2 separate regions of the Homo sapiens genome follow, and region 2 is reported to be linked to region 1. The links are microRNA targets in miRTarBase. Many come from high-throughput screens and were not tested one by one. Region 1 holds a microRNA gene; the other region holds the end of a gene's coding sequence.

Region 1 (4,541 bases):
CAGTACAGCGTGGAGCAGTGCACACAATGAAGAGTACCGCCTGCTGTGTGTAGTCAGAGCCAAATATATTAGTAAAGTTGACATAATGACTAGTGCACACTTAACTGCTGACATTTGGTTTACTTTAGAGGTTATGGAAATAGTGACTGGTTATATTATCAAAATCTCTTTTTGTCCAAGTTGTCGTTAATATTTCCTACACTGCAAAATTTCAGCACTTTGTTAATGAAAGGAAAATATTTTTGCTTATTCTAACCCAGCAGAATCTGAAAAGGAGATTTTAAAACCCAAACATTTGGTAATACAGACATAGACGACCTATTTTAGGAAGACTATTTCTATTTTTTTAATTTTTAATTTTTTTTTTTTTTTTTGAGACAGAATGTTGCTCTCTCACCCAGGCTGGAGTGCAGTGGTACAATCTCAGCTCACTGCAACCTCTGACCCTGGGTTCAAGAGATTCTCATGCCTGCCGAATAGCTGGGATTACAGGCATGTGCCAACATGCCGGCTAATTTTTGTATATTTAGTAGAGACGAGGTTTCACCATGCTGGCCAGGCTGGTCTTGAACTCCTGCCCTTGAGTGATCCACCCGCCTTGGCCTCCCAAAGTGCTGGCATTACAGGTGTGAGCCACCACGCCCGGCCTGAAGACTGCTTCTTAAGAAGTACATTTCTATTTCTAATTTTAAAATTTAGCATTTTCAAGAGAGCAAAGGGGGTAAAATAGTCCTGCACATCAGGAAATATGATATAGAAAAATATAGCAAGAGAGGCTTAAGTTAAACAGAGAAATTGTTTCCCCAAATTAAAGTGCTTAGAAGAGGTAAGCACATTTAAGAAAATAATAAGCCACCTGTTATCCTGATTCAGTTGAACCTACCATTTGTGAGAACAAGGGGGAGCACTGTGTTGAAGTGAAAAGACAAACAGAATGAACATTCGTTGTATCCTCTGAATATTGTCATTATACTCCGGGACCAGAAGGAAGCTTCTTGAAAACGTAACAGGTTTTTGTCGTTTAGGCTGGGACTTGGAATTAGAGCAGTGAAGTTCTGTTCCAAGTTGGCCATGCCAGGTATTGTTATCTTGGACAAAGTACTACACCTCTCTGACACCAGCTTTTATACTCAGGTTATTTTGAGGATCAAATGAGACAATGGTATCTGGTACTTGGAAAAACCTTCTTATCAAGTACTCTTTAAGATATTCAGGGCTACCACTTTATCATGTAATTTTCTTTTTTTAATAGCATAATTGAGTTATTTGCTGTTTAGCAAATACTTAGATTTCATTTTTGAGGGAAACCTTGTTCATTTTGCCCAGTGGCAATAACTTCTTTTATAACAGCACATAAAAAACTGGTTGCAAAATGGAATAGATTAGCATGCAGTATGAAGCTCTCCTGGGCTTCTCGCTTGGTGAGTTGACTCCCACTGATGGTGCTCCCAGTGGCAAGGGGCCAGTGGTGTTACTTTCTGAAAATTAAAGGGCCCAGATAATTTTGTAAGCCCAGAAAATGAAGTATTTCTTTCCAGAAGTTGTAAGTTATAAAAGCCCTTTGATAAGCCTGATGTGCTTTAAATATTCATGATTTTTGTCCTGTAATTTCTAGAGAATTAAATACCTTTAATTTAAAAGCTCTTTTGACATCATTACCTTCCTCATGCTAAAATACAATTTGTAATGAGAATTTTTTTTTTTTGCATTATGCAGATATTTTGAAAAACAGTTTGAACTGTCAGAACAAACAAAATTACCAATGTTTCTTCATTGTCGAAACTCACATGCTGAATTTTTGGGTGAGTTAAAACCAAAGTCTCATTCAGAACTTAAGAATTTTGTAGAAATCAAGCTATTTGCTAAAAGTTCTTTGTTTTTAATTCACAGACATAATGAAAAGAAATAGAGATCGGTGTGTAGGGGGAGTGGTAAGTATAAAATAGTCATTTTTAATACAGGTTGAACATCTCTAATCCAAAAATCCAAAATACTCCCAAGTACAAAATGCTCCAAAATCTGAACCTTTTTAAGCACTGGCATGAGATAATGACACCTTTGCTTTCTGATTATTCATTGTACACAAATTTTGTTTCACGCACAAAATTATTTAAAATATTTACCTTCAGGGTGTGGTATAAGGTGTATGTGAAACATAAATGAATTTCATGTTTAGACTTGAGTCCCTTCCCAAAGATTTCTTTTTATGTATATGCAGATATTCCAAAATCTGAAAAAATCTGAAATATGAAACACTTTTGGTCCCACACACTTGGGATAAGGGATACTTAACATTTATGTGACACACAAAGCATCTTGGTTATTAAGGATGGCCCCTAATTCAGATGTCAACATTTAAATTTTTTTTAAAAAGGAATAACAAAGAAAAACATAGGAATTAGATAGAATTCAATAGAATTAGGAGCTTCTTTTCCCATCCTTTGAAAGACATGTAAATTTACTGTTGAATTTATGGACCAGGTGTGGCATAAACACAAATCAGTTTTAATTACAGTTCCTTTGTTCAAAGTACAAGAATGCGTACAGAATTCCATTCACAAGAAAACCCTGTGAAATTTTTTTTGTTTTTTGTGTGTGTTTTTTGTTTTTTTTTTTTTTTGGTTATTAAGAAAGGGTCTGGCTCTGTCATCCAGGCTGAAGTGCAGTGGCACAATCTCAGCTCACTGCAACCTCTGCTTCCCCGGGATCAAGCCATCCTCAGCCTCCCAAGTAGCTGGGACTACAGGCATGTGCCACCATGGCCAGCTAATTTTTTTGTATATTTTGTAGAGATGAAGTTTTACTATGTTGCCTAGGCTGATCTCGAACTCCTAAACTCAAGCAATCTGCCCACCCTGGCTTCCCAAAGTGTTGGGATTACAGGTGTGAGCCACTGTGCCTGGCCCTTGAATTCTACACATCCTAATGCTGTGCATGATATTCTTCGTCTCTTCTGTCAGCTGTTCTTTAATGTTCTTCCATCCAAATTTTGAGCAAATATAAACTAATTTTTATGTTTTGAAATATTTTACCATTTGTTTTAGGTTTGCCTTTCTCATTTCTTGTCCGCTGTATTCACCTACTATTCTGATCTAGAGAGTCATTCTCCTTTCTGTAATTTGCATTCTGCACTAAACACTTCTCTGATATAGCCATTTTAGTCATTATTCTGGAGACATTTCCCATAAATACTATCTGCTAACCACATACCTCCGATATCTATGGCAGTGATTTTTTTTTTTTTGAGATGGAGTCTCGCTCTGTCACCAGGCTGGAGTGGAGTGGCACAATCTCAGCTCACTGCAACCTCCGTCACCTGGGTTCAAGCAATTCTCCTGCCTCAGCCTCCCAAGTACCTGGGACTACAGGTGCACACCACCACGTCCAGCTAATTTTTGTATTTTTAGTAGAGACGGGGTTTCACCATGTTGGCCAGGATGGTCTCGATCTCTTGACCTCATGATCCTCCCCCCATCAGCCTCCCAAAGTGCTAGGATTACAGGCATGAGCCACCTTGCCCAGCCATGATTTTTAGTCTCTTCGATCATGGACTCCTTTGGAAACCTGCCTTAGAAAAATGCTCAGATATACATATATTCATATGCAATTTCAGGAGAGTGACTCAGTGAGTGACTGTGTCTAGCAAAAGAACTGTAATCCAGGTAGATTAAATCACAGTTACACTATGCCTGCTAAGGAAAGAGGAAATAGCACCAAGCACTTGCATTCCCATGCGGCCTGACGTTGACAGTTTTATGCGTATTCTCTAAGTTCAACCTCTGCCTCATCTATACTACTAGTAATATGTATGCATCCTGCATTGCTGTAATGTTAATATTACTGTGCACTTTTTTCCTGTTTGTACTAACTCTGTAATTTTTTCCTGTTTTTACTTACTCTGTAATTTATCCTGTAGGAACTGTACTTAAGAATTGAGAGGGGTTTTAGTTTTAACTAATGCCGTTGGGATTATTAGTGGTATTTATCCTAACCTTCAGACTCTACCTCTCAGCCCATTTGCTTTATTTCTTTTCTTTTTTTCTTTTTCTTTTTTTTTTTTTTTTTTTTTTGAGACAGAGCCTTGCTCTGTCACCCAGGCTGGAGTGCAATAGCACGATCTTGGCTCACCACAACTTCTGTCTTCCAAGTTCAAGCAATTCTTTTGCCTCAGCCTCCCGAGTAGCTGGGGCTACAGGCACGCACCACCACGCCTGGCTAATTTTTGTATTTTCAGTAGAGACAGGGTTTCATCATGTTGGCCAGGTGGGTCTTGAACTCCTGACCTCAAGCGATCCACCTGCCTCGGCCTCCCAAAGTGCTGGGATTACAGATGGGAGCCACTGTGCCCAGCCTATTTCTAAATAAGAATTTACTTGGGTTCTATTAATAGTTTTTAAAATTAACAAAAGCAACAACAAATCCAACCTAAATGTTTGACTTTTACCAAAAAAGAAATTGCCAAATAATTAATAACTAGTTTTCTGAAATGGTTTATGAGGAGTCACTTTTAAAATGATTTCGATATTAATGGAGGGCATCTT
Region 2 (4,000 bases), not on the chromosome of region 1:
GTGAAACCCACCTCTACTGAAAATACAAAAATTAGCCTGGCTTGGTGGCGGGCACCCGTAGTCCCAGCTACTTGGGAGGCTGAAGCATGAGAATTGCTCGAACCTGAGAGGCAGAGGTTGCAGTGAGCCAAGATTGCGCCACTGCACTCCAGCCTGGGTGACAGAGCAAGACTCCATTTCAAAAAAAAAAAAAAAAAGAAAAAGAGACTAAGAGACTAATTATTTTGTATCTTGAAGTTTAAAATCCAACTTTTCTCTTTCTCCTTTGTGACATTAGAACAGTAGTTCTATAACTTCATTGTAAGAATCACCTGGATAATTCATTAAAGATGCAGATTCAGGGCCACGTGTTCAATTCTGATACAGTAGGTCCTGTAATAAGGCCTAGGAATGGCCATTTTTAAACAGTACACTAGGTGGTTTTGATACAGATCCAAGGACTCTAATTTAGAGGAACACTAGGTTAGAGGTTTCTCAGACCTGCAAACACCTAAGCACCTGGGCCAAACAAAGCTACAACGAAGATCTGTATGAAGATATATAGTTCTGCAGAATTTAAAAAGAGCACAATTTAAGTCTTCGGCCCTCAGAAGTTAAATTCATATTCCATCTAAGCCAACTTTGATTTTCATTAAGTTAGAATGAACTCCTAGTATTCCAGTATTACACAGAACGAAGTACTACTACTAACACATAGAAGTCATTACTGTGATATAAAAAGCAAAATAGATCCTTAATTAAAAATTAGTCACTCATATTCAGTGTTGAATAAGAAGTTAAAGTTTCTAGCATAACTATCTTGAGTGCATTAAAAATGCTTTTAGAGCAATAAGATAAGCTTCTAGCTGACTGCCTAGAAAAACAGAAGATACAAATTCAGTGTCAGAAATGAAAGGGAATACACTACAGACACTATAGTTATTAAAAGGCTAACTAGAAAACACCATGACCAACTCAAGGATTGTATATTTAACAACTTAGATGAAACAGATTCCCTATAGGATACAAACTAGAAAGCTCACTGTAGAAACAGATAACCTAAACAGAACCATATTTATTAAGGAAATTGAGTTTGTGGTTAAGTTAAAAACCTTCCAGTAAAGAAAACTACAGGCCCAGATAACTTCCGTGATGAATTTTACCAAACACTTAAGGGAGAAATAATATCAATTCTAAACAATCTCTTCCAGGAAACAGAAGAGGAGGAAATACTTCCCAACTCATTTTATTTGACCAGTATTACCCAGACAAAGATACTATAAGAAAAAAAACTTTAAAACAATGTCTTCATGTGCTAACATCTGTAGTTAAATTAGCCATTCTTTTTACATGAAATAATGGGAATTGGTATATTTCTTCCATTTCATTTTTCTATTTCTTTGCTAATATACCACCTGTAACAAATTCAATCTAGATGCTATCTGTCCACTTGCCTACATTTCCATTCTATTCAAGCCATTTTTGCTCTTCAAGTACCTTGATCACTTTGGAATCATAGCATTGCAAGCTATTTCAAAAAAAGTTGCGTGGTTGGATTGTGCTAGCTACTTTTAAATTTATAAAAAATGCCCCATATATTTTCTTGCTTGTCTGGGAAATATAGTTGCTATCTAACTAGAAAAATAAGAGGGCATTATTAAAGTAACTCTTTAAGCATCGTACTAAATGTTTGACTTCCATTAACCATATTTCTTGTAGTAGCTGTAGCTATTATGATACTGTGTAAAACAGAACAGGTTCTATATATGCAAATGACATTTTCATTTAATGTACCAAATTGTGTATCTAACTTTTATAATATAGGTTAAACAGATCCTTTCTAAGATGGCATTATTTAATCTTTACTTAAAACTATGAAAAATATGTGTAAGTTATTGTTTATAAACAGAAGAGACTATAATTAAAATATAGAGCAGATTCCAAGTGACCATCATTTTACTTTTTAGATTTAAAACAGAATGAAACAGAAGATTTAGTCATAAGAAGATGCTTGAAAAACAATCCAAGTATCCAATGCAGTGGCTATAAAATATTATTTCATCATTTAATCTTAATCATTTTGAAACAAAGACAGACTTCAATTTTACACTGCTTGCACTTTATTTTGTACAGACATTTCATTAATTATTACTCAATTTTGAGGTGCAAACCTTCTGAATATAGCTTTCATTTTGGACCAAACAATTTGTTATGGCAATAAATAATGATGCATTGAAAAACCAATTTTTGTATTTGATTTAATGCACTCTTACATTTAAGAAATTATATATACATTCTTGAATTTCAACTTACCAAAATAGAATAGCTTTTATTTAACAGCCTAAGCTTTTGTTTTCCTGACAAATACTGAAACTTTTTGTTACATTAATGCTGCAAAGTTGTTTATCACCTCAACTTTCTCACTGCTTTGCTCATAACTAAGTGTGATTACATGGAGAGAGAAAGTTTTGTAACAGTAACACATGATTTAGAGTTTAAAATCATATCAGAAGATGGGAATTATTTAAATATACCTTATAAAAATAAGTGGCTTAATCAATGAGAAAAAAACCCAGGGGTTTTTGGCTTATAATTAGAAAATAAGTATTATTCTTAGTTAATAGTTAATTAAAAAAAATCAACAACCTAAAAAGTAAAACCAATTCTGATGTGTTCAGTAGCTGAAAGATATGTATGTTTGTAGGTATAATATACAAATACAGACACAAACCATTACAGTAATTTTGAAAACAACTAGAAAGCTTATACTGTGTTGACAAATATCAGGTTATAAGAGGACTACCCCCTTTGTTTTAAGCAAACTTTTTCTGCTGACCGAATAGCTAGGAAAAAACTGGAGTTAACTGAAATATTTCTAACCAAAATATTACAAAGTTCTAAGAAACAACTCTATCTTCTAGATTGAGGTCAGCCAACTATACCCTGCAGGCCAAATCTGCCCAGCTGCCTCTTTTTTTTTGAGACAGAGTCTCACTCTGTCGCTCAGGCTAGAGTGCAGTAGCATGATCTCGGCTTAACTGCAACCTCTGCCTCCCCGGTTCAAGTGATTCTCCTGCCTCAGCTTCCCGAGTCCAACTGCTTCTTTTTGTGTACACCACTGTACTTTTTTTGCCTACTGGCTGCTCTTGAAGTACGATGGCAGAGTTCAGTATTTGTGACAGAAACCTTACGGCCTGCAAAGCCTAAAATATTTAGTATCTTGTACCTTACATAAAAAGTGTGCTGACTCGTGTTCTAGATAACTTGCTAGGGACAAATGGTCTCAGATACACAGCTTTTGGAGAACAAAGTCCAATGGTCATCTAAAATGAAATGAAATTAAATAATAGGTGTAGAAAATATACACATGTTCATTTCAAATATAAATTACAAGATAAAATCAGATCTCTTCAAAACAAATATTTAATATTTTAACCATTTTACAGGAAAGAAAATTTAAGTAACATATTTACTTCGTTGTTGACGTCATCATTTTACAAAGGTAACAAAAAGAGCAGTTCTGTGAAACTAAATGAAAAGCCTAACATTGGAAGTTTCCTTCAGCTTTCCACTTTAATGGCAGAAGATACCACACAGACTTGTGCGATGTCATCATATTCATATGTTCTCTTTAAGAATGTGTCTGTTAGTCTTAAGCCAGAGATGCTCTATTGAGAGAGAGAGAGATGAGTCTAAGTTTTCATTCATTCAGAGGAAATACAGACATCACAAATGACTTGTAAGTTAACAGCACCCAAATATTGGAATTTTTGAAAAGACAGCATACTTGCAGTCCCTGTACTGAAGAAAGCAGAGTAAGGGCAAGACAGAGCGAAGAACTTGGATGCAGCTTTCCCAGCTGTCTTCCTGAAATTCCACACCAGTGGATGGAATTGGTATTGCACATTTCCAAAACCAGATCCATAGTCCTTTCACTGCTGGAGGAATCAGAATAATAGGAATAAATCTTGTTCATTTCACAAAGAGGTACTGCAATATTTCTACTAGTGACAGTAAACTT

Evidence for each region. Region 1 holds the annotated microRNA hsa-miR-6844 (UUCUUUGUUUUUAAUUCACAG, at 1,870-1,890, shown strand). A microRNA usually pairs through its seed, bases 2 to 8, with sites in the 3' UTR of a target mRNA and lowers its output. Matches are read on the target gene's strand: a 7mer-m8 pairs with bases 2 to 8, a 7mer-A1 pairs with bases 2 to 7 and ends in A, and an 8mer does both.
Region 2: miRTarBase lists TRAPPC13 as a target of hsa-miR-6844. The part of its 3' UTR that is shown has no 7-base or 8-base seed match.

Annotation. Positions count from the first base shown.
Region 1 is chr8:124,505,864-124,510,404 of GRCh38, reverse strand. MIR6844 (microRNA 6844) reads left to right here and starts at 1,829; the gene lies at 1,829-1,890. It overlaps TATDN1 (TatD DNase domain containing 1), which reads left to right. Exons shown (of 12, transcript NM_032026.4): 7 at 1,717-1,802; 8 at 1,891-1,931.
Region 2 is chr5:65,664,151-65,668,150 of GRCh38, reverse strand. TRAPPC13 (trafficking protein particle complex subunit 13) reads right to left here. Exons shown (of 13, transcript NM_024941.4): 12 at 3,767-3,914; 13 at 1,918-3,647. The coding sequence ends at 3,540. It overlaps SGTB (small glutamine rich tetratricopeptide repeat co-chaperone beta), which reads left to right. Exons shown (of 11, transcript NM_019072.3): 11 at 1-2,223. Among named protein-coding and RNA genes, the nearest start is that of TRAPPC13, 41 kb to the right of the region's middle.